Linked DNA regions of Homo sapiens: all the other regions are linked to region 3. Evidence: fine-mapped expression QTL. A gene starts in region 3. Each other region holds a variant in brackets. All regions are shown on one strand. Distances are between the middles of the regions. Region 1 overlaps RALGAPA2 (Ral GTPase activating protein catalytic subunit alpha 2). Region 2 has its middle 55 kb from the start of LINC03083. Region 3 holds the start of RALGAPA2 (Ral GTPase activating protein catalytic subunit alpha 2).

What was found. PIP is the estimated chance that this variant, and not a neighbour inherited with it, causes the effect.
Region 1: its variant is fine-mapped to the expression of RALGAPA2 in whole blood (TOPMed, PIP above 0.99).
Region 2: its variant is fine-mapped to the expression of RALGAPA2 in anterior cingulate cortex (GTEx, PIP above 0.99).

The regions. Positions count from the first base shown.
Region 1 is chr20:20,670,930-20,681,499 of GRCh38, reverse strand. It overlaps RALGAPA2 (Ral GTPase activating protein catalytic subunit alpha 2), which reads left to right. Exons shown (of 40, transcript NM_020343.4): 2 at 699-809; 3 at 5,212-5,264. Among named protein-coding and RNA genes, the nearest start is that of RALGAPA2, 36 kb to the left of the region's middle. The variant G/A (reference allele first, on the strand shown) is at 4,537.
Region 2 is chr20:20,909,748-20,920,317 of GRCh38, reverse strand. No RefSeq gene overlaps it. Among named protein-coding and RNA genes, the nearest start is that of LINC03083, 55 kb to the left of the region's middle. The variant A/G (reference allele first, on the strand shown) is at 4,972.
Region 3 is chr20:20,706,795-20,717,364 of GRCh38, reverse strand. It overlaps RALGAPA2 (Ral GTPase activating protein catalytic subunit alpha 2), which reads left to right and starts at 4,721. Exons shown (of 40, transcript NM_020343.4): 1 at 4,721-4,990. The coding sequence starts at 4,885. RefSeq lists enhancers at 4,261-4,460, 4,285-4,579 and a silencer at 4,571-4,830.

The DNA.
Region 1 (10,570 bases), 36 kb after region 3:
GCTAATCAGCCCCAGTGGGAGTTGTCACTGTGCTAAGTTCCCCACACCCCCGCCTATCTATCCGCAGTCTGTGGTTTAGCAAAACTGTCTAGTACAAGAGGGGCAACTCTAGGAACACATGGTAGATCCTACAGTGTCCATACATGAGTGGGGGCAGGTCATCTAGAAGCTTGTGGTTGGGGAGCATGTGCTAGTTCACTTGAGCTGGTTTCTCTTTTCATGCCCAGAGAGTTATGTTGGTGGGGAGGGAGCAGAGATTGGTCCATTTAGGAGCTCCACCAGCAAAGTTGTTTTTCAGAGGTACAAACCCATCCCTCTTCACGGCCTGTGTCAAAAACTGCCTCCTCCATGAACCTCTACTTCCTCATCCCGTAACAGGAAGTCATGTCCCTCCCCAGACCTGCCCCTGCTTACCTCCAGCCTTCTAGCTGGTCCGTTGTTGCTGGCTCCTGTCAGCTCCGACCTCCCTGAATTGGCTCCACGGTCTCCTGAGCAGGGCTGAGTGGTGGGTGGTACTCAAGGTTCAAGTAAGAACTCTCTTAGGTGGAGAATAAACAAACAGGAATACTGTTTTGTTTTGTATTGTCTTATAAGGGAATGAAACTAGTTGTACTTGCCTTCTTTTCTGAGAAGTTTGTTTCTAAATTCTTGTGATTTTATAAAGTGAATTGTCATAAATGGAAACTTTTTCTTTTCAGATAATGTGGATGCAAATGATCTTAAGCAGTTTTTTGAGACCAACTATTCTCAGATATATTTCATCTTCTATGAAAATTTTATAGCACTGGAAAATAGTTTGAAATTAAAAGGTAAGCATTTCAGTAGTTTTTTTTTAAAAAACATTCGGGCATTTTTATAAGTTGTATATATCATGAGCCACAAATTATACATTTTTAAGCTTTCTTTCTTGCCAAGCCTTTAGCAAAGCTGTGAGAGCATGGTGGACAGGGTGGCATCTTTGTTTCTCTTGAGCTTTCACTTATATGGATGTTAATTGAACAACACATGGCTAGCAAAAATAGCAGAAGGAACCCTTAGAAAGCATGATTTTCAAAGGAGTAAGTTACTGAAAAAGAAAGAAAAGTAATACATGCATACTATTAAAAAAATTTAGATTCCATAAAAGGGTCTGAAATGAACACTCAAGTGTCTGTTTTGCCCTGCTTGCAGAGGCAACCACTATTAAAGATTTCCTGCATCTCCTTCCAGATATATTATTAATGTATTATGTTTATATATGTTTGTGACTATATTCTTTGAAAATCAAACCAACAAGGTCACATTATACATTCTGTTCTGTATACATTATACATCCTGTCACCTAAGTGGTAGGATAGTGTAGCCTGGGGAGCCAGACTGGGTTGGGAACCTGGCCCCACCCTTCTAGCTGTTTCTCCTTGGGCAAATTAATCTGTCTCTGAGCTGGCTTCCTCCTGTCAGCGTTAAACAGGTTCACAGGTATCCTAGCATTTTAGGACAGAGTTTGACACATAGTCCATGGTCAGTAAGTAGTAGCTGCTGTCACCATCTTCTTTCATTTTCATGTAGTCTGTGGGCTGAATCTGAATCCCCACAGCTCTATGAAGTAGATGTCATTCATTTATTTAAAAAATAAGCCATATGCATAAATAACTGTGAAAAAAGTTAAAAAGTCAGTTGTTCTGTAAGAGAGATTTAGACAGAATTCTGTGGTTCTTGGGAAGTGGGAGAGATGACTTCCTGCTGAGTATATAGATGAGGCTTTGGGGAAGAGGTGGCCTTGGGAATGGACCTTGAAGGACAGCAGGATTTCAGGTGGAAGAGAGCGGCACTGCTGCTGGAGGGGAGAACATGAGTAAAGGTAGGGCTGTTCTTACGACATGTATGGGAAATGCATTTTTTTTTTCTTGCAGCAAAGGTGTGTGAAAGAGATTTGCAGGAAATTAGATAATGCTTGCAAGGAGCCTTGAATTCTAGGCTAAGGAGTTTGGACTTTGTTCTGGAGGTGGTTAGAGCTCTTGAAAGTGTTTGTTACTATCACAAGTATCTTGTAAAGTAGCGATTGAACCAGAGGCAAGAACACCAATTGGAAGGCTGATGCTGTCATTCATCTGAGGGATGGTGATGCCTGATCCAGGGAGGCAGTAGTTAAGGGAAAAGAAAAGTGTTGTGTCTCAGTGGGTCTACCATCTATGAGACTTGGTTATAAGGGAAAGGGAGAAGTCAAAGATGCTTTCAGGACACTGAGTCTGCTTTGTGAGGTGCCATTAGCGCAGGAACCCTGGAGGGGAGCCAGATTTGGAAGGCAGGAGGGTGAGAGTGGCTTTGGGCAGTCTGTGTTTGAGGTGCATGGGGGATACCTTGGTGTAGGTGTTGGCTGGACAGTACAATATAGGTGACTGGAGCTTGGGAGAAAAGAGGTGAAATCGTGTTATTGCCAAGGGAAAAAGTATATACAGAGAAAGAGAGTGATGGTCAGAACTTTTAGATAATTCCTTATTTTATTGGGTATATGCAAAGGAAAGCGATGGAGTAGTAGGAGGGGTACCAGGAAAGGGTTTTGTCACAGAGGACCAGGGGAGAGAGAATTGAAGGCATGTAGAGTCAGCCTATTGGTGCATGAGGTGCAGCTGGGCTGGGGAGTAAGAGCTCATCAGTGTGGTTGTTAGTGAGTGCGGAGAGAAAGGTTCTAGGTGAGGAGCAGGTCGGAAGCCAAACAGATGGACATGGAGTCACAGGGCGGTGAGCTGTTGAAGGTGACCCATGAGAATATCCTTTCAGAAAGTTTGATGTGAAGACACAGATTGTATCTCACCCTGGTCACGGGAAGGTTATTGAGGAATGCATTGGCCTGTTTGCAGATTGAGGAGTGGGTCAGCTGGAGGGGGAGATAACTAATGGTGCAGGTGTTGGGGGAAGTGAGTTGAGACAGGTCAAGGAAAAAGAAGAGACATGGAGAGGAGCGTACAGGTGACCTTTCTATGTAAGGAGGAGCAGATAAGGGGATAGTGTAGATATGGAGACATTTTGAGGTGGAGAGGAAAAATCAAGGGACCCCTTGTCAGATGCCCTGATTGCTCCTGTAGAACAGGCAGTTGTCAAGCATGGAGTGGAAGGAATTCAGGGTGAGGCACTGTGGTGGTCTTTGATTGTGGCCATTCTTGCAATCTACTGCAAAGAATCATAGTGAAGAACCAATAAAAATAGTGAGATTTTTGAAGTCTTTTGCTTTTAGTATAATCTGTGTTCGATTGGAGTGCAGGGAAGACACTGTACCTTAAAAAAGAATAAAAGAAAATGCCTACAAGGAATAATGAAATAAATAATCTTGTGATAACTTGAGCCTTTGCAGTTATTCAGGCCAAAACTCCGGAGTTATTGGCTCTATCTTCAAAATACATCCAGAATCACCGGCCTGTTCTCATTGCCTACACTGGTAACACTGAAACTCCTGATATCCTCACCTGGATTATAGCATTAGCTGCAGAAATGGTCTCCCACCTCCACACTTGTGCCCTCTCCCATCCCATAGTTTCTTGTCAAAAGAGCAGCTGGAGTCCTCCTTTAAAAATATGAGTCAGGCGCGGTGGCTCACACCTGTAATCCCAGCACTTTGGGAGGCCGAGGAGGGCAGATCACGAGGTCAGGAGATCAAGACCATCCTGGTTAACATGGTGACACCCTGTCTCTACTAAAAATACAAAAAAAAATTAGCCGGGTGTGGTGGCAGGCGCCTGTAGTCCCAGCTACTTGGGAGGCTGAGGCAGGAGAATGGAGTGAACCCAGGAGGCGGAGCTTGCAGTGAGCCGAGATCGCGCCACTGCACTCCAGCCTGGGTGACAGAGTGAGACTCCATCTCAAAAAAAAAAAAAAAAAAAAAAAAAAAAAAAATGGGTCAAATCATGATTCTTGGCTGCTGTAAAGTTTCAAACGGGTTCTCATTCCCTGTTATTACAGTGGTCTCAGGCTCCACCTAATCTGCCTTCTTTTGCCTCACCTACTCTCCAACCTCAGCTTCTCCAACTGTCCCGCTTGTGTGCTCCAGCCTTAAGGGCCTCTGACTGTTTTCTGACTAAGCCAGACATGTTGAGCTACACGGACTTTGCATTGTTCAGTTCCTCTGCCTGGAATACACCTCCCCTAAATTTCCGTATGGCTTGCTTCCAAACCCCCACATTTCCATATGGCTTGCTTCCTAACCTCAAAGGATCTTTTCTCAGATGTTACCTTACCAGAGAGATGTTCTCTGACTTCCCCAGTCAAAATTGCATACCATCTTTTTTGGCTTCTGTGTCTGCATTCCTTCTTGTTTTTCTCACTCATTTATAGAATGCCCCCTCCTGCCAGAATATTAAATTGTTGGGGGCAGGGATTGTTGTCTGTTTTGCTCACTCCTGTATCCTCAGGGCCTAGAATAATCCCTGGCATATAGACATTCTGTAGTATTTATTCAATGAATGAATGAATGAATGATATCTACTTCATTGAGCTGTGGGGATTCAGTTAGATCAGGGGTCCACAGCTTATAGCTGCCTGTTTTATAAATAACGTTTTATT[G/A]GACAAGCCATATCCATTATTTATGTATTGTCTGTGGCTGATTTTGTACTGTAACAGCAGATTTGAGTGTTTGTAAGAGAGGCCTGCAAAGCCTAAAATATTTATTGTCTGACCCTTTACAGAAGAGGTTTGTTGATTCCTATATTAAATGATATGCGCCAAGCACTTAGCACGATGCTTGGTACACAGAGAGGACCGAAAATGGTAACCTCAGCTGCAGGTGTTGTAGGTTTTATTACTGTTGTTATTATCAATAGGACAGTGTGCAGTTGCCCCAAAAGATATACTACTTTTATAGTTATCTGCTCTATGACTTTTTATATTACCAACTTAGAAATTTTTCGTTTGTGCTGTGCATTCTGCCACAATTTGAGCCAATAAGTAACTAGTTGAGAAATGAATAAATTACCCATCATAGTTTGGTAACAAGTTGGAAAACATGGAAGCTGTGTTCAAACAGCTAGCAAGGGGCAGCTCTGCTGGATGTGGATCTGAGCAGTCGGGCTCGGTTGTCTGTTTGCAATCCTAATGTGTTCTCCATACTGCCTCTTGCTATTTTTTGAATAAATGAATGTATGTTGAGGCTTACTAGTTTTAAGCTGCCTTTTAGCATAATTTGTAGTGTCCTGAAGTTTAAATGATGTCATGATAACTAATTATTTTTTAATATTCCAGGGAATAATAAGTCACAAAGGGAGGAGCTGGACTCCATCCTCTTCCTTTTTGAAGTAAGTTTTGATGAGTTTATTTAGCTTTTATAATTCTTGTTGGAAATAAAGTATTTTTGATCTTTAATTTTATTTGAAGACAAATAAAAATGGCTGTTGGTGGACATATATTTTTTTCTTTCCTTCCTTCCTCCCACCCTCCCACTTTTACAAACTGTGCTACAAATAATTTTCTCGTGATTTTCTTTTTTTGCAAGCATGTGTGATAGTTTTTCCTGTATGGGTACCTAGATGTGAAATTATTAGATGGAGGAGTACACACATCTTAAATAGTAGCAGATATTGCTGAATTGCTCTCCAAAAGGTCATATATTCACACTGAGAAACTGCCCTGTAAAAAATAAAAAAATTTAAAAACCCAAAAATGTTATATAAACTGATATGTAAGTCTTATGTAAATTTCCTATACTCTAACATTAGAGATGATTCGTCTCATATATATAAATACATATATATATAAATCTGACATGCAAAAACTTTTTTTGATATATATTTTTCTACTAGTGAGGTTATGATCTTTATGCATCTGTATATCTGTGTGCATTGATCATATCTTCAAAGTTGAAACAATGTTTGGGTGTGGTTTTTGACTTATTAAGCTTAAAGTCTTTCTTGTCCAAATGTATTAGATAAGTGGCCAGATTACGGGTACCTGGAGAACACACTCAGAACTGAATTATAGGTTCCGAAAGTTAATTGTTGGTTTTTTAGAAATTATTTGTGGTTTGAGAGGTGTAGGCTTAGGTTAGTGTGAGAAGATAAACTTTTATAGCTGTAAAGGAAAGGCCTAATGTGAGCAGGTGCAGAGCTGGCTGGAGGGCAAAGCACTGTAGGAAAGATCTCCTACAGTAGGAGAGTTCTCCAGGGCCTTATGGTGAGGGGCTTTCTGAGTTTATGGAAAAAAAACAAGATATGGGAAACTTCCTGCCCAGGACTTGGCTTCATGGCTAGTGCTCAATAGCCCTGGTTCCCCTTTCTCTCCTTTGAGAGCTATACTCCTTTCCCAGAGTACAGATGTTGATTCGCTATTGATACACATATGTTGATACACATATTCTGTAGTGGTTATTATGTTTCCTGTGTTTACCGTCCTTTGAATGAAACCTGTGAAATGAGTTGTTTTTAACAGGAGCTTTAATTAAGTGTGTTACTTAAATATGTATCTACTGACCATCATTTGTTTGTACTATTTTATCAACTTAATTATATTATTTATGTAATGGTTAAAGAATCTATAACATATGTAAGTTAGGAAGCATGGTAATAAAGCACATACTCTTGACACCCTCCCCCTTCACCATTTTAGGAACTAAAAGCTACTTAGGTGCTCTTCCACCATCCTTTTTCACCTCTGTGACAGTAACTCCCCTGCATTTTATCATTCTCTTTCTTTTAAAAAATGGCTTTGCCACACATATTTGTACCCTTAAATAATTTCTTGTGTGGTTTTGTTTTGTTTTGAGTGTAATAGAAATGATCTCCTATGGTACATAATCACCTTCGACATGCTTTTTACCCTCAACATTAATTCTAAGATTTATCCATGTTTTTAAATTTAGTTCATGTTTATTCAGTCCCACTGCTGGATTAAGTAAATATATGTGACTTGTTTAATTCCTACATTTTGTCTACAGGTTTTTTGTTTTCTTGGTAGACAGATTGTCTATGAGTAAGGAGTGGACATACTTGCCAGTTGGTCTGCTTTCCGCCCTGAGTCAGCCTTCCAGTACATTGGTAAATGGAAGTGATAAAGGGTCATCTTGTTTTTGATCTAAAGAGAGTTTTGTTAATGTGAAATATTAAGAGTAATATTCTCTGTAACTTTTTGGTAGATTCTCTATCAAATTAAATAACTTTGTTTCTATTCCTAGTTTGAGATTTATTTAAAAAATCATAGATGGGTTTTGAAGTTTTTAAATTTTTTCTTGAAAAAACTTGATTGAGATGATAATGATTCTTCTTGAGTATTAATATGGTGAATTACAGTTCTAGATTTTTGGATGGACTAATTACTATTACTATTATTATTATTATTATTATTATTATTTGAGTCAGGGTATTGCCCAGGCTGGAGTACAGTGGTGTGAACATAGCTCACTGTAGCCTTGACCTCCTGGGCTCAAGTGATCCTCCTGCCTCAGCCTCCTGAGTAGGTGGGACTACACGTGTGCATCACGATGCCCAGCTAATTTTTTTTCTTTTTAATTTGTTGTAGACATAGGGTCTCCCTATGTTGTCTAGGCTGGTCTCAAACTCCAGGGCTCAAGTGATCTTCCTGCCTTGGCCTCCTGAAGTTGTGGGATTATAGGCATGAGGCACTGCACCCAGCCTGGACTAATATTTTGTTTGCATTTTTGGATCTCTGTTCACAGCTGAGGTTGGCCTCAGTTTTTCTTTCTCATACTCATGTTGTTTTTGACTGGTCCTGTGGTAATGGTTATAAAACCTGTTGTCAAGCATTTCTTCTTTCTCTGTTATATAACATAGTTCTATAAGATTGGAATGAGCTGTCATTGAAATGTTTTTTTTACCTTTCCTATAAAACCACCTGCAACTGGGGTGCTTTTTTTACTTATGTGAAGATTTTAACCACTCATTCAATTTCTTTGATAGTTTTAGACTTGTTTTAGTATTATTCATATTTTCTGGTTTTTTTTTCTTGATTCAAGTTTGGTAAGTTATATATTTTTCTAAGAATTTGAAGAATTCTGAGGATTTGTTCTTATCACCAAAGTTTTAAAATGTATTGGCAAAGAAGCATCTCTTTGGAGAGTCATAATCCCTTCAGTTTTATCTCCATTAGCTTGGTCTTTATTGTCTTCAAGCAGTTTTTATATTACACACCCTAGTAGTAGTGGTGGTGGTGTTGGTAATAGTAGTAGTAGTAGTGTTTGTGCCACATTTTTACTATCTTCTAGTTGCCATTGTAGCAGCTTTAAACTCTGTTTTTGGTGTAATTGTTGTTCCTTTAAATGTCTTTTCTTTCTGGCTTCTTTTTTTTCATTTTTTTAAATTTTATTTTTATTTTTATTTTTATTTTTTATTTTTTTAAAGATGGAGTCTTTCTCTGTCGCCCAGGCTGGAGTTCAGTGGTGCGATCTCAGCTCACTGCAAGCTCCGCCTCCCGGGTTCATGCCATTCTCCTGCCTCAGCCTCCCAGGTAACTGGGACTACAGGTGCCCGCCACCACACCCAGCTAATTTTTTTGTATTTTTAGTAGAGACGGGTTTTCACCGTGTTAGCCAGGATGGTCTTGATCTCTTGACCTTGTGATCCGCCCACCTCAGCCTCCCAAAGTATTGGGATTACAAGGCGTGAGCTACTGCACCCAGCTGCTTCTTTTAAGATCTTTTGTGTCTGTTGTTCTACAGTTTAATTACAAAATATCTAGTTGAAGATTTCTTATCTTGCTTGGTATATGTATGTTTCTCAAGTCTCTGGATTCATATGTTTTATAGTTCTCTAACATTCTTAGCTATTGTCTTCTCAAATATTGATAAGTTTCTGTTCATTCTGGCCATACTTTCTAGGATTCTTACTTAAACTTGTTGATCTATCCTCTCTGTTTCTTAAGCTTGCTTTTATTTTCTCCTCCCGCAATCTGTTTGTGTTGCATTCTGGGAAGTCTCTTCAGTTGTTTCTTCCAGTTCACTAACTCCCTTCGTTTGGAACAAATCTGCTACTTTACCAATCTATTGAGCTGTACATTTCAATGATTTTTTTCATGTTTTTAACAGCTTTTTTGGTTTGGCATTCTTATGTGGCTGGTTGCTTTCGATTGTCTCTTGATCCTCGTTCATTTTTAGACATCTTTTATTTTATTAAACATTTACTGTGTAATATTTCATATTTTGTAGATGATAATCCTAGTAGCTTAAGTGTTTGTCTAATTATGCTGGTTATTTCAGCTGCCTCTCATTCACAGTGGCTTCTTTTTTTGCATATTTTGTGATATTTGATTTTGAGAGTGGTACTGAATGACCACAGATTTCACATTTGTTAATCCTGGTTTCTCCCAGAGGATTTGTCTTTGCTTTTGCCGGGAGTCTGGGAATGCTCTTGATTGAGAGCACTTTAGCTCCATTTGAGGGTTCTGGTTTATGAATGGAAATTCAGGTTCAGTTCCCTAAACTTACCATAGCTGGGAACTGGGGGCTGGAGGGGATAGTCACCTGTAAATCCTAGCGCTGGTGTTGGCATCAGCTCCTTGGCATTCTGCAGTTTTTTCTTTTGCATGTTGCTTACAGATCAGGTTTTGGCTTACTTGTCTTCTGCCTCCTTTCTTCTTCCCTCTTTGCTCCTCCTTCTTCCCCCACCATTTTTTAGTCCCTTGTTAGTTTCTCTGTGTTCTTCAAAGCCCAGCAATGTTTTAAGAATTACATTTGTTGTCATGGATCCATTGGCCTGCAGCAGGAAAGCCCTTCAGAGACTCTAGACCTATCCCTCTCACAGAAGTTTTGATACTTTCTCTTCATGTTCTTAAATTCTAGACTAGGGAGGGTGTTAATACTGATACATTACCATTTACAGAGGATTAGTTGCCTGTATAATAGAACAAATATATATTGTTCAAGGCTTCATAAAACTTTCATTTTGCATGGTAAATATGAGTGAATAATAAACTTGCATTACTTTTGTTTATGCTTATGTTCCCTCTGTCTCTGGCTTTAGAAGGTAGGTTGTAATTTGTATGTTTCATTCTGGGTACTAAGTAACTTCGTTGCTGCTTTGTAGGATAGTGCCCTGTAAAGCTTGTAAAGAGATAGTTTATAAGGGTTTGGAAGTGAATACTTACCACTTTGTAAATAATTAGGAAAGGCTCCCTTGAGAAGAGGTGGAATTAATAAGATGTGTTAAATCACAAAAGCGATACCATGTAGAGATATTCTATAAATAAGAAATGGCTTGGAAGAAAGCATAGAGGTAAGAGATAAGAAGGCATGAAAGAGGAGTATGTAAAGAGAGCTGCTGTCTGCCTTGTAAGTCAGGGATGCACTGAAAGGGAACCTTGGAAAAGGAAACAGTAGTTTTTAGATGTAGAGTATTGGAGACATTACAGTATTCTGATAAAGTAAGTGATGTGCAGTGAAGGCCACCAGCCAGTCCAGGTCATGGTCTCAGGCAGTGAGCAGACCTTTTTGCCTGCCTTCCTCTCTAGTGGGAGCACTTGTACCTTTTGGAAGTTGACTCCAGCTGCCTTTGCCTGTAGCTTCAGATATGTACACCACTTAGAGTTTCTGTTGGTTCATGGAGTTGTTTATCATATTTTTTTTTTTTTTTTTTTTTGAGACGGAGTCTTGCTCTGT
Region 2 (10,570 bases), 200 kb before region 3:
AATGTTAACAGTGGTTATTTCTATGTTAGTTCAGCTCTACTTAGATGTTAAACAAAGATTAAATACATGTAAATTTTAAATTATAAGTGCCATAAAGAAAGGGAAGAATTTCCAGAGAGCTTATAATGGGGTAGTATGTGTGAGAGAGGGGAACCTAACCCATGATGGAAGGTGGGGGAAGATTTCCTTGTGGATTTAGTTCTTGAACCTAGACCTAAGGATGAGTGGAGTTATTTATAAGCTAGTGCATGGTTCTTTATATTTTTAATTTTAGATGCCTATCAGTTGTGTTATTAGCAAATATTTTTTCCTGTTCTGTGGGTTGGCTCTTCACTTTCTTGATAGCCTTTGACACAAAAATTTTTAAATTTTGATGAAGTCAAATTTGTTTTTTCTTTCATTGCACGTGTTTTTGGTATCACATATAAGAAACCACTATCTAAGGCAAAGTAATAAAATTTACATCTATGATTTATTTGAACAGTTTTGTAGGTTTAGCACTTACATTTTTATCTCTGATCCATTTCTGTATATGAGAAAAGGTAGGGGCCCAGCTTCATTCTTTTACATGTGGCTATCCAATTGTCCCAGAAAAATTTGTTGAAGACTATTCTTTCCCCCATTGACTTGTCATGGTAATCTTGCTGGAAAGCAATTGATCATAGATGTACGGCTTTATTTCTGGGCTCTCAATTCTATTTCATTGATCTACATGTCTATCCTATACCAGTACCACATTATCTTGATTACTGTAGGTTTGTAGTAAGTTTTAAAATCAGGATGTATGAGTCCTACAATGTTGTTCTTTTTCATGATTATTTTGGCTGTTCTGGGTCCCTTGCCATTTCATATGAATTTTAGAATGAGCTCATCCATTTCTGTAAAAGTGGCATTTGAAATTTTGGTAGAGATTGCGTTTAATCAATAGATCAAGGGGGAGTATTGTCATCTGAACAATTGTTCATCTTACCAATATTAAATCTTCCAGTCTATGAACATGGGATGTCTTACTATTTATTTAGGTCTTCTTTAACTTTTTTCAAACAATGTTTTACGGTTTTCAGTGAAAAAGTCTTGCATTTCTTCGGTTAAATTTATTCCTAAATATTTTATTCATGTCAGTGCTATTTTAAATTAAATTGTCTTAATTTCATTTTTGGATTATTCATTGTTAATGTATAGAAATATAACTGATTTTTGTATTTTTATCATATATTCTGCAACCTTGCTGAACTCATTTATTAGCTATTAATTTTGTGTGTGTGGATTCTTCAGGGTTTTCTATATATAAGATTATGTCATGTTCAACTATAGTTTTACTTCTTCCTTTCCAATATGGAAGACTTTTATGTATTTTTGTTGCCTAATTGCCCTGGCTAGACCCTCCAGTACAACGTTGAATAGAAGTAGTGAACGTGGACATCCTTGTCTTATTCTTGATCTTAGAGACTAAGCTTTCAGTCTTGCATGGCACATATTTTTCCATTCTCCCTATCTTTTACTTCCAACCTTTTTGTGTTTTTGAAGATAAAGCATGTCTCTTGTAGACAATACAATATACTTGGGTTAAGTTTGTTTTTTAATACATTCTATCCATCTCTAACTTTTGATTGGGGAGATTAATCTATTTACATTTAATCCTCACTGCTATGATAGGATTTACATCTGCCAATTTGCTATTTGTTTTCCATTTGTTTTATATGGTTTTGTTTTTTGTTGTTGTTCAATTCCTCTATAACTCCCTTCCTTTGTGTTAAATAGATATTTTCTAGTGTACCATTTTAATTCCCTTGTTTCTTTTACTATATACTTCTGAGTTATTTTCTTATTGCTTACGCTGTGAATTACCACTAACATCTTAATTTACATCAATCTAATTTGGATTAATAGCAACTTAATTTCAATAGTATACAAAAACTTTGTTCCTATGTAGCTCCATCTTACCCCCTTTAGGCTGTTATTGTCATAAATATATCTTTACACATGTGTGTCCATCAACTTAAGTGTATAATTATTGCATTATGAAGTTGTCTTTTAAATAAGGTAGAAAAAAAGTTACAAACAAAAATACAGTACATACTCTTTTAGAGTTACCTATATAATTCCCTTTGCTAGTGCTCTTTATTTTCTTCATATGAATTTTAGCTGTTGCCTAGAGACCTTTTGTTGCAGTCTTAAGGACTCCTGCTAGTATTTCACGTAAGACAGGTGTGCTAGCAACGAACTCTCTGTTTTGTTTATCTTAGAATGTCTTAATTTCTCCTTCATTTTTGAAAGATAATGTGCCAGATATAGAATTCTTAGTTGACATTTTTTTTCTGTGAGCACTTTGATTATATCTTCCCACAGCCTTCTGCCCTCCATGACTTTTTAATGAGAAATCAGCTGATAATATTATTGAGGATTCTTTGTACTTGATGAGTTGCTTCTGTCTTGCTAATTTCAAGAGCTTCTCTTTGCTTTTGGCTTCTGACAGTTTGATTCTTATGTATCCAGATGTCATATCTTTGAGTTTATCTTGCTTGGAGTTTATTAGGCTCTTTGGATATGTAGATTAAAGTTCTTCATCAAATTTCATAAGTTTTCACCATTATTTTTTCAATTATCAACATTTCTCCCTTTTCTCTCTCCACTCCTTCTGGGGCTTCTATTATGTGTATATTTGTATGCTTGGTGGTATCCCAAAGGTCTCTAAGGCTCTGTTCATTTTTCTTCATTCTTTTTTATTTCTGCTTCTCAGACTAGAAAATCTCAACCTATCCTGAGATTCACTGATTCCTTCTTTAGCCTGCTCAAATATGCCATTAAGTCTGTCTTGTAAATTTATTATTTCAATCATGGTACATTTTAACTCAAGAATTTCTATTTGGTTTCTTTTGTGATTTCTATATTTTTGTTGATACTTTCTGTTTGTTGAGATATCATCCCCATATTTTGGCTCTTTGAACATATTTAAAATAGCTGATTTAGATATTTGTCTTAAGTCCCATAAACCAAGTGTTTGTGCTGCCTCTGGGGCAGTTTCTACTGATGTTTTTTCCTATGTATAGGTCATACTTCTTGTCTCTTTGTGTGACTCATGTTTGTTGTCAAAAACTAGACATTTCAAATATATAATATAGAAACTGAAAATCAAATTCTCCTTCCTCCTCAGGGATGTTTGCTGATTATTGTAGTTGTTGTTTGTTTGTTTAATAACTTTTCTGAATATGTGAAGTCTGTATCTTAGTCATGAGTGGCCACTGAAGTCTCCACACAGTTAGCTTAGTGGTAGGTTAATGATTCGCAGAGATTGCCTTAAATATCTGGAGCTAATAAATCTCCAAGTTTTTGCCTGGGGCCTCTGTATGTGTATTGATACATGCCTTCATCTCTCAGCAACTCTACCTTAGTCTTCACTTCCTATTTGTGTAGAACCTCAAGGACAGCCAGAGGTGAGCACTTAGAGCCTTCTCAGGTCTTTCTTGAGAATGCTCAGACCTGCACCCAGCCCTGGGCATGCATGTGGCCTTTTAGATTCCCAGTAACATGTTGAAACTTTTCAAAGCCCCTATGGACATCTCATGCCTCAGGTTTGTCTTTTAGATTTTTTGATTATTCCATTGTTTGCCCTAACTGTTATCCATCACCCCAGTCAGCTGTGATGTTAAAACATTTGACAAATGCCATCCTCCTCCTTTTTCCTTTCAAAGGTTTTAATCACTGGATAAGTTCAAATGAAGTCAAATAAAGAAGCCTTCTGAATGAGGGACTTCCAGAGAACTACCAGTAAAATAAGACACTTATTTGGAAACAAAGTCCATTTTGCTCCCTCTGGTACCAGGAATACAGACTGATTTTTCAAGGCTACCACTAAGCTGAGAAGTGGAGGATGGGACTAGAGTAAGTTAAAATGCCACAATCTGTTCTTATCAAGATTCAGTCATATTTTTAAATCCTCACAGGGATGCTACAAGCTTTTGGTTAGTTTCCAAGTTCTGAAAAAGTCAATTCTGCCAAATTTTGCCAATTTTTTCATTGCTTTCATAGAAGCCTGAACTTTCAGAGATCCTTACCTAGCCATTTTCTCTGATGTCACCCTTGCCTCTACATCTGTGCATGTCCCTGTTGTATGTTACTGCTAGCAGAGCTAAATGACCTTACAGTCCTTATGCTAGACCTTCCCAAACTAGACTTCCTGGATCTCTTAGTTCAAATTTCTGTGAGAGAAAATCTGATTGAGTCATTCCAGCCAATAGAATGATTCATTTTATGCCAGTCATCTGTATCTGTGATGGCAGACCATGTGGTATAAATGTGGCCAATTGGCACCTTGTGTTCATCAGGAGTTGTGTTGTAAGGCAATGACAAGGAAAAGAGAGAGAAGCAGGCTTGGATTTCTAGTGCAGACTTGTCACTGTTAATTTCTCCCTCTGTGCCAGTGACCCCATTTTCTCCGTCTTCCCTGGAAACTTGTTTCCAGGAATACCACCCTCAATGATAGGCCAATTTTCCTTTTCCATCTTTGTGTCTTTTCTCAGGCCTCACGAATGTGGTTTCTCCCTTCTTTTATTTTGCCTGGGTCCTCCCCTGCAGAGCTGCTGAGAATGAAGAGGAGTACTTCTCCCACCACTAAGTGCTGCTCTTGAAACAAACATGCAAAGCCCTCCTTATTTTTCAAGAATGTTTTCTCTTTCCAGGGGAAAAGACAGAGAGTAATAGAAATTTAAAAAGTAGCTCACCATTTTTCTTATCTGCCTGCATGGTTCTGCCCCAGTATTGTCCTGACCCTTCAGTGCTGGTTACACCTTCACTTCCAGCTTTGCATAGGACTCTTTTACTTTGGTCTTTGATTAATGAGGTTTTCCAACTTTAAGACTGGTTTCTCATTCCTCTCAATTTTGGACTATGTCCTAGTTTTTCTAGGCTTTCTGTTCTGAGGCTAACATCTGCTGCTATTTCCATGGTCTAAGACTACTCATTGACTCATCA[A/G]ATCTTTCACAAACAAATCATTTAGTTATCAGAAGGATTATATAAGAGTCAAAGTGAATGGTTTATCTTGATATCCACTGTTGGTTTGTGTAGCAGATGATGTTAATGCTCGGCCCACATCCTACTGTCCCACCCCAAATGTCACCTATTCCTTGAATGAACTCTTCTTGTTTAGGCTGATTATTTTCTACCTCAAACACCTGAGTCTCTGTCTTCCAGGGGACTTTCTCTGGTCTTTGGACATTCTTCACCTACAAGGTGGTCAGGCTGGAAGTGCCGGAAAGTTTATGCTCTGAGAAGCATCCCTCAACCAATAATAGATGGAGGTTGACGAATGAGTGCCACAGCATCCTCATGTGGGACAACTCTAAAGTGTGTTTTTGAGATGGCTTCCCAGAGGTCTCAGCGGGATTGGACTCCAGTTGCTCACAGAATTAGTCTTCCCAGAGCACCCTGTACTGATTCTTTCCCTTTCCTCACTTCCTTGCTTCCACACAGTACTTCCTGGAATCACTTCCCAAATAAATTACTGACTTCCAGGTTCTCATCTCAGGGTTCTCTTTTGGAGGAAACCAAAACAAGACACTTGGATAAATGCCTTCACTCAAAGTTGCTAAGACAATGATCACTTGGTAAGTGATGCCAGGATGAGAAAGGAAAACTATAATTACCCCTTTGCCAGATGCAACTCTATTTGACAGTGTTGTACACTTTCTAGCATGGTAATGAGTTGGGAAGACATCCTGAAGTTTAGAGAAAACTCAGGGGACCAAGATTGAGTTCTAATGGCCTTGGCCAGGCACGATAGCTCACACTTGTAATCCCAGCAATTTGGGAGACCTAGGCAGGTGGATCACTTGAGGTTAGGAGTTCGAGACTGGCCTCGCCAACGTGGTAAAACCCTGTCTCTACTAAAAATATAAAAATTAGGCAGGTGTGGTGGCACATACCTGTAGTCTCAGCTACTCGGGAGGCTGAGGCAGGAGAATCACTTAAACCTAGGAGGCAGAGGCTGTAGTGAGCTGAGATAGCACCACTGTACTCCAGCCTGGATGACAGAGTGAGACTCCATCTAAAAAAAAAAGGAGGGGAGGCCTCACAAAGCCCAAAGATCTATCCAGAGGAGGACGACATGCCATCAGAGCTTGCGTGATGTTTTCATAAGGCAGAAACTGCAGGTTTACAGATCTCATATCAAGAACGTTGCCTCACAAACAGAAAATCCTTATCTCCTTTTAGGTCAATGTAAGGGGCACTGATGTGGTCTCACCAAGGGCCACATTATTATTGCATTCAAGTCAACAAGCACTTGAGAGTTCTCATGTTTTTTAAGAGCTTGAAATTTGGAAGGGGATGGCAAGAACAACTTGACTAAATATCACTTACTGCCATGGTGAGTTGTAGGGCCAGCCAAGCATGTCCCCCCTTCATCACAGTGGCTCACTAGGTAGGTAAAGATGGGAGAGTCTCATGCAGATACACCCACGTGGCTAATGGGGTTATGACAAACCCCGGGCTGCTGAGAAGTTAAAGGAGCTTTCGAGAAAATTAGGGAGGTCCTCAGACACACTTAAGGTGGAGTTAATTAAAAGTCACTAATGCAGTCATGAGTGTTCAGCTCCACATTATTGTTGTCAAAGGAGAGATTCTGCAAGCACATGTTGGCATATTTGGAGAAACCACGAGTAAGATTGAAAAGATAAAAGACATTGCAATGCTATGACTTGTGTCCAAGAGTAGAAAAATACATAAGAAGAATAAAAGAGAAACTCTTTATGCCAGATATCTTATTTATAACCCAGATTTTGAAGTCTTGACCAGTTATTGTCTCATGTCAGGAAGGAAAAGGCACTTGATTAGAAAGGATAGAGGGTGATCTGTTACATAATTTTACATGTGATTTCCTATAATATAGTAGGCGTCTAAAAGCTATTATCTCCCATTTTCTTGATGACGGAATTGAGGTTCAGGGGGAAGGCATGACAACCGGGGCATAAGGGGGTCCAAGTACTGGTCACCTCTAGTTCTATCCTGTCCTTAACGTGGGCTATTATTCCCCAGACCCTGGAATTACCTAATATAGCAAGGAGACGTGTATCCTGCTCTGGGATGGCTGGCTTTACAAGTGTGCTGGTGGCTATAGAAGCCAGCCCTACTCTCTCTGCTCTCTCCAGCGCTGACTGCTCCACTCAGCTGGGGGCCCAGGTCACCTTCTCAGCACAACCATTTCACCCGGTTCTGTTTATGTGTTCTCACAACACAGCTCATTTTTACTTCATGTCCTTCTCTTATTCCACTTCTTCTCTAAAGGAAAATTTGATTCTTTTCTAAAAGGGGTTTAGAACAAATGGTTTAGATTCATAGATATCCACAGTGGGATTGTGTGTTTCTGTTGCCCACAGCTGCTGGTCAGCGCTCCCTGGGCTGCTGCTTTCCCTTTTCTTCTCCTTCCAGACCTCTCACAGTGTTTCCCAGAGCCACCTGCCAGGGAACCTGGCTCACCCACATCTTTATTCTGGCCCCACTGGAGCATCGAATTGTAACCGAGTACGCTCATTTTTCTAGAGGTGGTTTAATTATTTTTTCCCCTCTCTTTCACTTCACCTTCATCAGACATTCCCTACAGGGCAAGTTCTTCCAACTACATGCTCCAAGACACATCTCTCCTAGAGAGGTGACAGTCGGTTTGCAGACCAAAGCATGCCCCCACGGAACTTTCACCACCAGGGTGTTGTCTTGGAACTTCCATCCTCGGAACCTTCATCCACTTGGAGGGCTTATCGAAAGCATGCCCGCTTGGCCACTTTTACAACTTACTTCTGCCCAGGAAGGCTCCAACTCAGCAGTCTGATAGATCAGACACTGAGCTAGCAGGGGACCTCTGTCCTTGCTCATTTCCTCCCTTGCCTTACAGAAGTGCCCCCTTTCTCAGGAGGCTGAGGTGGGAGGATCAACTGAGCCCAGGAGGTCGAGGTGGCAGTGAGCTATGATCACATCACTGCACTCCAGCCTGGTGACAGAGTGAGACCTTGTCTCAAAAACAAACAAATGAAATAAATAAATAAATAAATAAATCTGCTCACTTTCTGCTCTCAAGGTGCAGCGGTGCATATAAAGGCAGGATGCTTTGTGTCCCTTCCCCCAAGCTAGCTTTGGGATAAATTCACTTTTTTTTTGTATCAGATCTCTCAGCCAGGGTAAGGTCCCATAAGTAGATTACTTTTAAAGGCTGACTGACAGTAACAGAAGTAGCAGCAATGTCCAATCATAAATATATCAAAAATCACAGTGATCAGCGGTGATTCAAAGTACCGGCAAGCTTCCCCACCCACTTCAGTGGCCTGAAAGGGGTCAGAGCTCAGGGGTCCGGAGTCATCACCATAATCCCAAGTCATCAGGGATGGGTTCTTATGTGGCCACTGTGAAACGGGAGTGTTCCCTGATTCCCCTCACAGGACGTGAGACAGGGATGTGGCTCACCGGTTCAAAGCCCTTGTGGGAGAAGAAGCACGCAGATCCACAGGTATAGAGGCCAGGGCAAGCGCTTTGGGCTCTGGCCCTGTGGTAGTGTCTGGTCTTGGTTGCCTGCAACCCCAATGTTTAAATGCTCTTTCAGCTTTGCTGAGGTTTTATTGAGTGGTGGAGGTGGCCCTCAGTGGGATGGATGTGGAGCCGGAAGTGGGGATGTAGTGGGAAGGTGATCCTCCCCTGGACTTGGGCTGCTCAGCCCAGACTCCTCTCCGAGCGACCTCAGCCCAACTCCTCTCGGCCTTCAGATGTTCCTCCTCTTCTCCCTTTCCCTAATGAGTCATTCCGCGGTCCATTTGCTGGTCGGCTGGCTTGCTGGTCTGCTTCTGGGTCCTGGGTTTCAGGGCTTATATGGGTGCAGGACAGGGGGTGCGGCGGGCCCCCAAAAGGCAACTTTTTGGGCGCGAAAACAGAAATGCCTGTCCTCATTTAGGGCCACAGGTCTTCGGGCTGGAGGGTGGAGCCTTTGCCGGGGAACCGCCCTCTTCTACCCAGTATTTTCCTGTCTCCTGTCCACATCAACTGGACGCTCTTTAAGAAGGCAGGAGCTGTGAAATCCATTTAGGAATAATTACCCTAAAAAATGGTTAAACTAAAAAATAAAAAGGCCCTTTAAAGGATTGATAAGCTTCTATTATTTTGGAAAATTCACTAGCCTCGATGAGCTCATTCTTGGACAATAGCAGATAAATGAGACTTGATTGTTCCAACACCTGCACCGATGTTTGTCTTGTCTCTGACAAGGCGTGGCTGGGCATTGTCAATGAAGTGGTCTCCTCATTATCTCGGCTATTGTTCCAGGAATCAAAGCTGTTATCAATGCCCATGCCTATTATGCATAACTCAACCACAATACCAGGAGAAGTGAGAAAATAGGTGATAGAGTGAATAACATCTTCTCAGGACCACATTTCATGCGAACCACGGCATTTCCCAGCTGATTCTTTTCATTTTAATTTTTTCATTACCAAGGTAGTACATGATCATCATAAAAACGTGAACAATGAAGAAAAGTGAAAAGCAAAAGCTCTCTCCAATTGTGCAGCCCCACTTCTGGGATGACCCACTCTTGCATTGTGTAAAACAACCAAGGGATGTACCCGAGCACACACGCATGTTGACAAAATGGCACACGTGCATATTATTGAGTCTTTTCACTACCATCTATCTATCCCAGCCATTTTATTCTTTGAATAGTCTCACAGAATTCCACTGTGTACATGTCCCATATTTTATTCATTCGTCCTTTGGACATTTAGTCTGTGTAAATTATTAGACAGTGAGCATCTTTGTACATTAACCTTGTTCATTTATGAGACAATTTCTGCAAAATTAATTGCTAGAATTGGAATTACTAGGTTTAAGGGCATGCACATTTTCCCCTTTTGCTTAATACCTGCAAACTGCCCCTCCAAATCAGGCAAAAAAAGTTCATTGTTGATTTCATTCTCATTTTTTAAAAAACTAGTTACAGTTGAGCTTTTTCCCCTCATGTTTATTGGCCACTTGCATTTTCTATATGAATTGTGTGGAAATAAACATGTATTACCCAAATGAGAACAAGGAAAGACCATTTATTCAGAGCTTGCCATTGCAAGGGAGTCGGCCACTATCACTTGTATTTGCAGATACTCAAAGGCAGGTAGGGGAGTTGGAAAGCCATATGATAGAAGAGAAGTCTTCAGATGTGCCTTGATTGGAGGTCATCAGCATAGGGAGCATGGAAACCGGCTAACTAGCAGTGATACGGACAGGAGGCAGGCAAGGGCCCCCGCTCCCCTCTCCCGGCTTCCCTTCTCCTCCCCCTTTCCCTTCCCTGCTCAACCCCTCGCCAAACCGTGCCTTCAAGCCTAAAGCAGCCTGAAGGCTGAAAAACTGGACTGCAGGTCCCTGATGGATCCCGCCCTTTTCCGGACTGATTCTTTCTGAGTAATGCCCACCTGCGTACTGGGAGGAGGGGTGGGACCTCGGGAAGTTCGCACAGTTTGCAGCAGGGAGGAGCTGGGCCTTCCCTGTTCCTGGGTAGTAACCTGAGATTCAGTCGTTGAAGTGGAGAGCCTATTAGCAGAAC
Region 3 (10,570 bases):
TTACAGGCATGCATCACCACGCCCAGCTAATTTTTGCATTTGTAGTAAAGACAGGGTTTCACCATCTTGCCCAGGATAGTCTCAGCCACCTGCCTTGGCCTTCCAAAGTGCTGGGATTACAGGCGTGAGCCACCACGCCTGGCCAACACATGCTGTATTTTTAAATTATGAGTTCAAATGGATATTTGAAGTAAAATCTAGTATTACAGAGTTTTCACATTTTCTTTGATGTGATATTTTTGTATCTCCTTTCTCTTACACTGAAAATCTTGGTTCTTAATAATAATTATTAATTCTTTGCAGATCTTTTTGCCCTTAGAATACATCCCTCTAAGGAGGTACAATCAGAATACTGTTTTCAAAAATCACTTGAAATAATTATTTTCTCTATATAGTTATGCTACCAATTACATATACGGTTGGGTTTATTTTTTCATTTATTTTTGATTTTCAGGTTTGTCTTTTTCTATTTTAATTTTTGAATATGTAAAACATTTATATGGTTCAAAAGTGAAAAAAATATAAAAAGGTATACTCAGAGAGGACCCTGTTTCATTCCTTTCCACCTCATCCTCCATCCCACTTAGGTAGGAATTGATGTTAGCTTTTTATTTATCCTTCCAGTGTTTCTTTTTGAAAAAAAAATTTTTAATATTCTGTTCCTTTTATATTTAACAACGTATCTGGAAAATTATGTCAAGTCAGTACACGCGAAATTTTCCCATTATTTTTAAACAGCTGCATAGTACTCCATAGTGCTACACTGTGTGGATGAACTGGATTAAATTAGCCACTTATAGATGTATGTGTATATAAGTACCTTGTTAGACAATCACAGGGTTCTCTCTGGTATCTGGTCATACTCGTTTTCTAGAGTGGCTGCAACAGATTACCACAAATTGCGTGGCTTAAAACAACAGAAATTTATTTTCTCACGGTTCTGGAATCCTGAAGTCTGAAATCAAGGTGTTGGGCTTCCTCTGGAAGACTCCAAGGGAGAATCCTTTCTTGCCTCTTCCAGTTTCTCTTGGCTATAAGGGTCTTTTCGTTTGTGGCTCCATAACCTCAATCTCTACCTTGGTCTTCATGTGCCCTTCTCCTTTGTTTCTATGTTTTCACTTCTTTTGTTTCTTACAAGCACATTTGTCATTGGATTTAGGGTCTACCCAGATAACTGAGGATCTTATTATATTTGCAAAGATCCTTCTGCCAAATAAAGTCTCAGTCACAGTTTTCAGGGATTAGGACATAGACATATCTTTTTGGGGGGAAGGGTGGGCACTGTTCAACCCACTACATTGGCTATTATAAATAGTGGTGAAAGGAATAAACTTCCATGCATGGTTTTATATTTATTTCTCCATAGAGTTATCCTACCAATTACATATATTGTTAGTTTTATTTTTTCCATTTATTTTTTATTTTCAGGCTTGTCTTTTTCTGTTTCAATTTTTGAATATGGAAAACATTTACATGGTTCAAAAATGAAAAAAATATAAAAAGATATACTCAGAGAGGACACTGAGTCCTTTCCACCTCATCCTCTATCCCACTTAGGTAGGCATTAATGTTAAGGTTTTTTTTTAAATCCTTCCAGTGTTATATATTAGAATATCTGCAGGGTAGATTCCTAGAAGTCAAAATTCTGGCTGGGTGTGGTGGTTCACACCTGTAATCCCAGCATTCTGGGAGGCTGAGGCCCGTGGATCACTTGAGGTCAGGCGTTCAAGAGCAGCCTGGCCAACATGGTGAAACTCTGTCTCTACTAAAAATACAAAAATTAGCCAGGCATGGTGGCACATGCCTGTAATTCCAGCTACTCAGGAGGCTGAGGCAGGAGAATCGCTTGAACCTGATAGGCAGAAGTTGCAGTGAGCTGAAATCACACCACTGCACTCCAGCCTGGGGGACAGAGCAAGACTGTCAAAAAAAAAAAAAAACAACAAAACATGGGAGGCCAAAGCCCATGGATCACCTGAGGTCAGATGTTCAAGACCAGCCTGGCCAACATGACAAAACCCCCTCTCCACTAAAAATACAAAAAAATTAGCCAGTCGTGGTTGCGCACGCCTGTAATCCCGGCTAATCGGGAGGCTGAGGCAGGAGAATCGTTTGGACCTGGCGAGATAGCTCCACTGCACTCCAGCCTGGGTGACAGAGCCAGACTTCATCTCAAAAAAAAAAAAAAAAAAAAGAAAAAGAAAAAAGAAAAAAAGAAATTGAAATTCTGGGTCAAAAGGCAAATATTTATTTTTGCCAAATTTCCTTCCATAAGAGTTGTAGCATCTAACATTTCTACCAGCTATGTTTTCTATAGCTCTGCCACCAGACTAGAGTGTGTTATCACACCTTGTCTCTGTAGAGGTTTTTTGTTTGCTTGTTTTTTCTAATTCAAATGATATTTCAGAGTAGTTTTAATTTGCATTGCAAGTTTTAAACTTTTGATCTCATTATTCTTATTTGCTGATTACTGTAGGACATTTATTCAACAACACTTAATGTCTGCATAACACTCGGCACTCTATAACTCCAGGGATAAAGAATTCAGTGCAAAGCAAGTGAAGCCCTCAAAGAGTTCACAGCCCAGCAGGAACGAGTTTAGAAAGAACAACAGAAAATAAGAAGAGCCATATGGAATATGCAAGTGGGTGAAAAAGTACCAACATAATAATACTATATGTTTCTTCCTTTTTAAGAGAAGAATTGGAGTTCTACATTTTCATTACTGGGTAAAGGCTAGATATGATGGGTGCGATGAATTTATATGCACAGATGCCTGTTTCTGGCATTACCAAGCTTGATAGTATCACATGTTCACTGTACACTGTCATTTATTCCCACATGTATCTAATCGCTCAGCCTCCTTAACTGGATTGGAAGCATTGGAGGTCAGGAGGATGCACCTTATACATCTTTTATCTCCAGGGTTTAGAATCATGCCTTACACATTGCAGGTGCTCAATAAATGTTTGATGATGATGGCAGCTTGCTTTGCAATTAAAAAAATGGAGTTTCCTAAGACAAGTATATTCTATTTTTTCAATCAGTGTAAGGAAAAGTATCTTCTCCTAAAGGAATTGGACAGTGAACATTGTGGTTTACTATGTGTAATCAGGTACAAGCTCAATTGCTGTAACGAAGACTCTCAAAATGCCTTGACTTAAGATAAGACATTATTTTGCTCTCTTGTTACACTTTTAGAAGTTTGTGGTCCTGATCTGTTATCATCTGGGGACTCAGGCTGGTAGGGCCGCTCTGCCATCATCTTGAGCATGGGGCTTTCATCTCCGGGTCTGAGAGTGATCCATGTTATTGGGTTTATCAGTAGTCTGTTCTTTTTTATTGCTGAGTAATATTCCTTTGTATGAATGTGTCTATACAAAGGAATATTACACAAATCTAAAAATAGAGAGACGCTCTAAAACTGTGAGTTTATTTATTTATTTTTTCCTTTTCGCCTGCCTGGTTGAAATATGTAGGACTACTTTAGCTTTTTATTGTATTTCATTTAATAAACTTTTATTGAGTGACCCTATGGGCCAAATACTGTGCTGAGGGATGGGGATACAAAGGCGTGTAAATCCTTGTCTCTTCCCTCAAGTTACAGTTCAGCTAGAGGAGAAAAAGACAGTTGTGTTGTCCCAATTTGGATGGAAACCACGTGATTCTACCTTAAGTACTTGCTGAAAAAGCTGAAAGGATGTCAAAACTTGCAGGATTCGGATGCCACTATACAATCCTACAGTGTAAGAAATCTCCTGACCATCTTTCAGCTCAAAGTCTTGCCCCAGGGAATAAGCGCCTGGCTTTAAAAAGTATACAGGCCTGAGTCAGATCCCTCAGGTTCTATTTCTGGTTCTGCTACTGGATCGCCATGTGGCTTGCACAACAGAGAACGCACCCTTCCTACAAAGAGGCAAGATCCCAAGGAGCCCTCTGAGCGAGCGACCTCCATACCCCAAGTGAGGTTGGGTTCCAGGAACCTAGGGGCCGGCTGAACTCCTCACCGGGGCACGCTCTTCCCTAGTGCCAAAGCAACTCATTTTAGTGTGAAATTAGAGCTGCGATTTCGGCACGGTCAGAGGGGCTTCGACTCGCTCCCTTGTGTGAATCCAGAAGCTAAACCTAAAAATAGTTTGCATTTGAAAAGCCTTGACACTTTTCTTACTGAGATTTTTGGGCGTGTGTGGTTCACGTTGCACTAGAGGAAAATGGGGTGGGCGCGCAGGAGGGAGAGTGAAACCACGGGCGATCTAGGCTGCCGGGGCAGGGGACGGACAGAGGCCGCCCTGCGCTTCTGCGACCCTGGAAAAGAGGTCGCAGCGCGTCGCCTGCTGGAGAACTTCATTTCCCAGGAGCACTTGCGGCCCGCGGCAGGGCGGGGCGACGTGCCCAATGCCGGCCCACTGACTCCCATCGTGCCGAAGACCGCCAGCCTGATTGGAGGACTGTCTCGCGGTGCATCTCGGGACTTGTAGTACAACGTGTGCGTGAGAGAAGCTCCTTTGTGATTCGAGGCGCCTTCTCGGCCCTCTGAGCGCGTCCCCGCTAGGTTTTGGCGCGGACGGGCTAGTGTCCCGCCAGGAGAGTTCGGCCTGTGTGCGCGTGCGTAGCGCCCAAGGGGCCGGCCGGCACCTCCCGCGGGGCGGGGCCTTCGGTTCCCCGTCGACACCGCCTTCCTGCCCCGCCCCTCGCCGTGACCGGCCCGCCCCTCCTTCCTGGAGACACAGCTGAGGCGGCGGCGGCGGCGGCGGCGGCGGCAGCAGCGGGGCTGGGGGCGGCGAGTGGCCCGCGCGACACGCGCCGGCCTCGACCCTATGCTTTGATTCGCGTGGCGCAGGCGCCTACTGCCCCGCCGGCGGGGCCCGGGCTTCCTGCCGCGGGATGTTCTCCCGAAGGAGCCACGGGGATGTGAAGAAGTCCACCCAGAAGGTGCTGGACCCGAAGAAGGACGTGCTGACCCGCCTGAAGCACCTGCGGGCGCTGCTGGGTGAGGCGCGCGCCGGGCGCGGGGGTCGGGGCGCCGGGTTAGGGGCACCTGCCGGGAGGGCGCTCCTCTGTGCAGGGGTCGGTGGCTGGGAGGCTGGGGAGGGGGATGGGTGGGCGTCCGACCCCCTTCCCTGGATCTGGGCTTGGACCCCCGGGGCTTTGTTTCCAGAAAGCCGCAGCCTGGCCCTCGGGCACTGCTCCCGTCGCCCTCGAGTTAAACTTAGCCCAGATTCTCGCTGGGCGCCTGCGCTCCCGGAGAACCTGGAGGCCGGGCACAGAGGTACCTGTCCCCTGTCCTCCCAGCAAGTGAACTGGATCCCAAGTGGTCATCACGTGCACACATTGAACTGTCACCTCCCCCTTTCATTTTTAAAATTTTATTTTTGAGTCTGAGACCCTAAGTAGACCGAGACCCCAAGTGAACCCAGCACAGACCTAATTGGGCTCTCATCTCTGTCATCCCCCTTTTAAATTTTATTTTTACTTTTGAGTGTGAGACCCCCATATAGACCGAGATTCCAGGCGATCCCAGCACAGATTTGTCATCTGTCTTCCCATGCTGCTTTTTAAATTTAATTTTTATTTTGGGTCTGGCTGCTTCAGTTTCTTTGTGTCCTTGGTGTGAAGGGGCCTTCTCTTCCTGCTTGGAGAGAGGGGTGGTTTTCTTGGGTTCAGGGAGGCTGCTTCTCCTTTATTACCGGCATGACAGTGATGCTGTCTGCCACCTTCTGGTTTATGGCCTGCCAGGTGGAGGTTCTGAGGAGCTCAGGTGGGCTTGGAGTTGACCTGTGATGAAGCTCGCCCCTGTGGGTGTGAGGTGTCCACAAGGCTTCCTGTCACCTGCTGCATGTGATCTGTAGCTGGTTCGCCTAGGCTATGTTTTGTTTTCTGTATTTTTTTACATCCTAAGTCTTAACTTTTCTTTGGGATGAAAACACCTTTGCTATCTATAGACACACTTACCTGTGTATTTGGTGGCGAAGGAAAGAACACCTTATGTTTCTTCCAGGTGTCTTTTAGTCCCAAAATTCACAAAAATCGCCTAGTGCTAATGTGTCTGTCACTTGAAAGAATATTGCATAAAATGATTTAACGTGTGAAGATTTTAAATAAAGATCTTGTTCATGAGATCAGAAGTTGCTGATTATTTCTATTTATATTCTACCTCTGAGGGGGAGAAGAACCCAAGCCAAACCAAACCACACCTGATTTTGCCAAGTGAAGTTATTCACAATCTCACATACCTTGAGGTTACACTGACTTGTTCAGTTTGAAATGAAATGTAAATTAGTTGCTGTTACAGGGATTCGTTTTCAAGACTTTTGAGAGTGAAGTGTGGAGAGTGAAGTGTGGCGTTCTTGGTAAACTGAATTTTCTACTTCCTGTAGATACCATGCACGCACAGGTTGCACAATACACAGGTTGCATTGTGTGGAGTTCCTGGTAGTGACTGATTAACACCTACTGCAGGGACATTTTTGATAAAGGAGAGTTGAGCTGTGTTTTAAAGCGTTTGATACTTTGAGCCTTTTTCTGTGCTTTAGCGTTTAAATTTTTGTTCTGTCCAGGTCTGCAAGATTAAGTTGGCTACATTTTATAAAGGCAGAATCAAGTAAACCTAGATCAGGTTATTTCTTAGCACACAGTACATTGTTCCCATTCTGAGAAAGTTGATTCTTTTCAAGTTTGTAAAATTGTAGTTTCACTCTAAGGTGTAGGTCTTATTTTAGGGAACTTTCTTTTATCATTTCACTGAACTCATCATGACCTCAGTTTTGTAACATGGAGAGGTTCTTTTATATTTCCTTAGGTGTATGTTTTTTGTTGATATACTTACTAGTGGAGTGGCCCAGTTTGCTTTGTTTATTACTGTGATCTTTGTAGGGACTAGATTTTTGTAAAATGTGTCTGAGGAATTCTAGTCATAATATTTAATGTAAACTTTCACTTGCTCCTGTGATTTATTAAAGACTTAAAAAGTAGTACGTAATGCACTAGTTCCTACCTAATCACATATTCTATTTCATTGCTACTCGAAAAAAAGTCTACTTAGAAAACAAAGGCCTCTTGAACTGAAAGTTAGGAATTAAGCCAAGATTAAGGAAACTATTTGAAGGAAATGAATAGTAATTACTATTGTATTTTTATGTGTGTATTTATATAACACTTTTGCTTTTCATATATTTTATCTTCAAGTGATAATAAAGTTTTTTTTTAAGTATGCAAAGATTATGCCACTTACTTGGGTATTTGCAGCCTGTCCCTGCCGCCTGCAGCTTCATGACTTGAGCTAGTTACGTAGCCTGTCTCTGAACCTCGGTTTCTTTGCTCTGTAAAATGGGTATGGTAATGTTTGCTTTTTAAAGGATTATTGTGAGTATGATGAATAAATGACTTCAGCTTGAAGTAGGCCTTTAACAGTTTCTTTCCCATTACATATCTCCCACCATTAATAGGATAGGACCAGTATTTTGATAGGTAATTTTTCTCCGTCTTTCTTATTTTTGATAATAGTGATGAATTTGTTCTCTTTTCCTAAAAAGTAGTCTGTATTTAAAACAACTGGGTGAGAAACATAAAATTAGCTGTGGAAGTAGAGTATTTCTTAGTATCATGGTAATAACTCCAATTTGGATGTAGATACTTTCACCTGGCTATAGACTGGTCTGGTATGATTAACTTTATTTTACAGAGGGGTAAGCTGAGGCACAGGCAGGCTTGACACGTATCAAGCCATGTAGCAGACGGTTTACTTATGTTAGAGGAAGAACGAAGAGCTGTTAGGTCCTGTGACTTCCAGTTCTTCCTACACTGTTGACAAAACAAAAACCAAAAAACCCTGTGTATTACCATATTGCTCCAGCAAAGATTCCATGTCTTTTTTTTAACAGGATCTTTGCTCTGTTGTCCACGTTGGAGTACAGTAGTTTGACCTTGCCTCAACTGCTGCAGCCTTGGCCTCCCTGGCTCGAGTAATCTCCCACCTCAGCCCCTGGAGTAGCTGGGGCTACAGGCATGTACCACCACACTAGGCTCATTTTTGTATTTTTTTTTTTTGAGATGGAGTCTCACTCTGTTACCCACGCTGGAGTGCAGTGGTGCCGTCTTGGCTCACTGCAACCTCCGCCTCCTGGGCTCAAGCAATTCTCATGCCTCAGCCTCCTGAGTGGCTGGGATTACAGGTGTGTACCACCATGCCTGGCTAATTTTTGTATTTTTAGTAGAGACAGGGGTTCACCGTGTTGGCCAGGCTGGTCTTGAACTCCTGGCTTCAGGTGATCTGCCCGACTCGGCCTCCCAAAGAGCTGGGATTACAGGTGTGAGCCACCATGTCCGGCCAGATTTTTGTATTTTTTGTAGAAGACGGGGTTTTGCCATGTTGCCCAGGCTGGTCTTGAGCTCACAGACTCAAACGATCCTCCCACTTCAGCCTCCCAAAGTGCTGGGCTTACAGGCATAAGCCACCATGCCTGGCCAGATTCTAATTAAAAGTTGAGTGCTTACTATGAGTCCTAAATTAGGATATAGAACTGGCATTGATGTAGTGAGAAGAATAGATACAAAATAATAGTAAATTTATGGTGTGTTATGTAATTAGATGGTCAGGTATATGGTAGAATCCATTATAGGATTTCAGAGAACAAAAGAGATAATTAAGAATGTCATAAAAATAGGGGCATCTTTAAGGAGATTTGTAGTAGTCTGTTCTCACTCTGCTAATAAAGACATACCTGAGACTGGGTAATTTATAAAGGAAGGAGGTTTAATTGACTCACAGTTCCACATGCCTCGGGAGGCCTCACAATCATGGCAGAAGGTGAATGAGAAGCAAAGTCATGTCTTACATGGTGGCAGGCAAGAGAGCTTGTGCAGGGGAAATCCCATTTATAAAACCATCAGATCTTGTGAGATTCATTCACTACCATGAGAACAGTATGGGGGAAGCCACCCTCATGATTCAATTATCTCCACCCGGCCCTTGACATATGGGGATTATTACAATTCCAGGTGAGATTTGGATGGGGACACAGCCAAATCATATCAACGTTTTACTTACGCTGGGTTCCAAAGAATGGTTAGACTAGTTCTGTCCAATAGAGATATAATGTAAGCCACATGTGCAATTTTAATCTTTTTTAGTGACCACATGTTAAAAAGTAAAAAGAATCAGGTGAAATTAATTTTAATAGTGCATTTTATTTAACTCCATGTATTTAATATATATTATATCTGCAGGTAATCAATATAAAATGCTATCAGTATTTTTTACATCTTTTTTTCATATGAAGTTTTTGAAATTCAGTGTATATTGTATACTTACAGCACATATCAGTTCACACTAGCTGTTTTTCAAGTGCTCATTAGCCATATGTCACTAGTGGCTGCACACTGGACATAGCAAGGTTAGAATCTGGGAAAGTAGAGGGGAAGGTCAATTACAACCAGGGGAAGATGGAAGAGCTGGTGGCAGAAGTAACATGACAGTGATGGTAAGTAACATGGCGAGGTGTGGTGTTGGGCACTGAGGACCCTTGCCCAGAGGATGTCCCCAGTGTCCTGCATAGGCCAGGGGTAGGGTAGGTTCCTGGGGAAGGAGTGGAACAGTAGCCTGACAAGCAGAAGCTGAGGCTGGCTGGGGGATCAGAAGCCAGACTCAGGTCAAATCAAGTGACCTGGGTTTGGACCAGAGAGTAGAGAACCGTCTCTCACAAATGCTGTATATACAAACAGAGCAAAACATAGCATTGTCGTATAGTTCCTTTTGTGCATATGTTGCTCATGTTGCTCTAGGTAGGAACAAATTGACTTACAGTTGTAACTGTTGTCTTTATTTTATCATTAGCATTTTTGATGTTTTGTTCCTCTCATTTTTAAGTACAAACATTTGTTGAGACCATATCCCATAATTTAGCTTACCATTTCCTGGATTGTGAAATTTTGTTCTTTTCTCTCCTTCCTTCTTTCCTTTTTTTTCTTCCTTCCCTTTTCCTGATAGAAGTAATACTGCAGTAAACATCTTGAGAAGCAGCTTTTTCGATATTTCCTTAGATTTTATTGAAGTAAGATTGCTGGGTTTGAACATTCGATGACTTGTTTCACAGTGCTTTTCTAAGTGTTGCTCCATTGGCCCTGCTAGCAGCAAGGATTGAGGCTGCCATTTTCACTGTAGTCTGACTACCAATAAACACCTTTTTATAATTTGATAATTGGTGGTAGGTATTTGGGATAATAGGAGTGTCATCTACAGAGTGAGAACAATTGGGAAGGGGGAAGGGATCCTGGGCAAGGACGGGGAAGATGAGTTTGGTGTTCTACATGTTGAGTTTAAGAAAAGGCAAGATCCAAGTGGCGTGTCTGGGGGGTTGTGGGACATGGGATCTGGACCTTAATGAAATGATAGAATGCTATCATATATTTAGTTTTATTGGTTATTATCATCATGACATCATTGAATCTTTTTGCAACTGTGACAAAGGAAGTGTTCCTATCCCCAGCTGAGGAAACTGAAGCTCAGTGAGAATAGCTACTTGTCTGCCAGCAAGTGGGAAAGCTGAGACTTATCTGATTATGAAGGCCATGT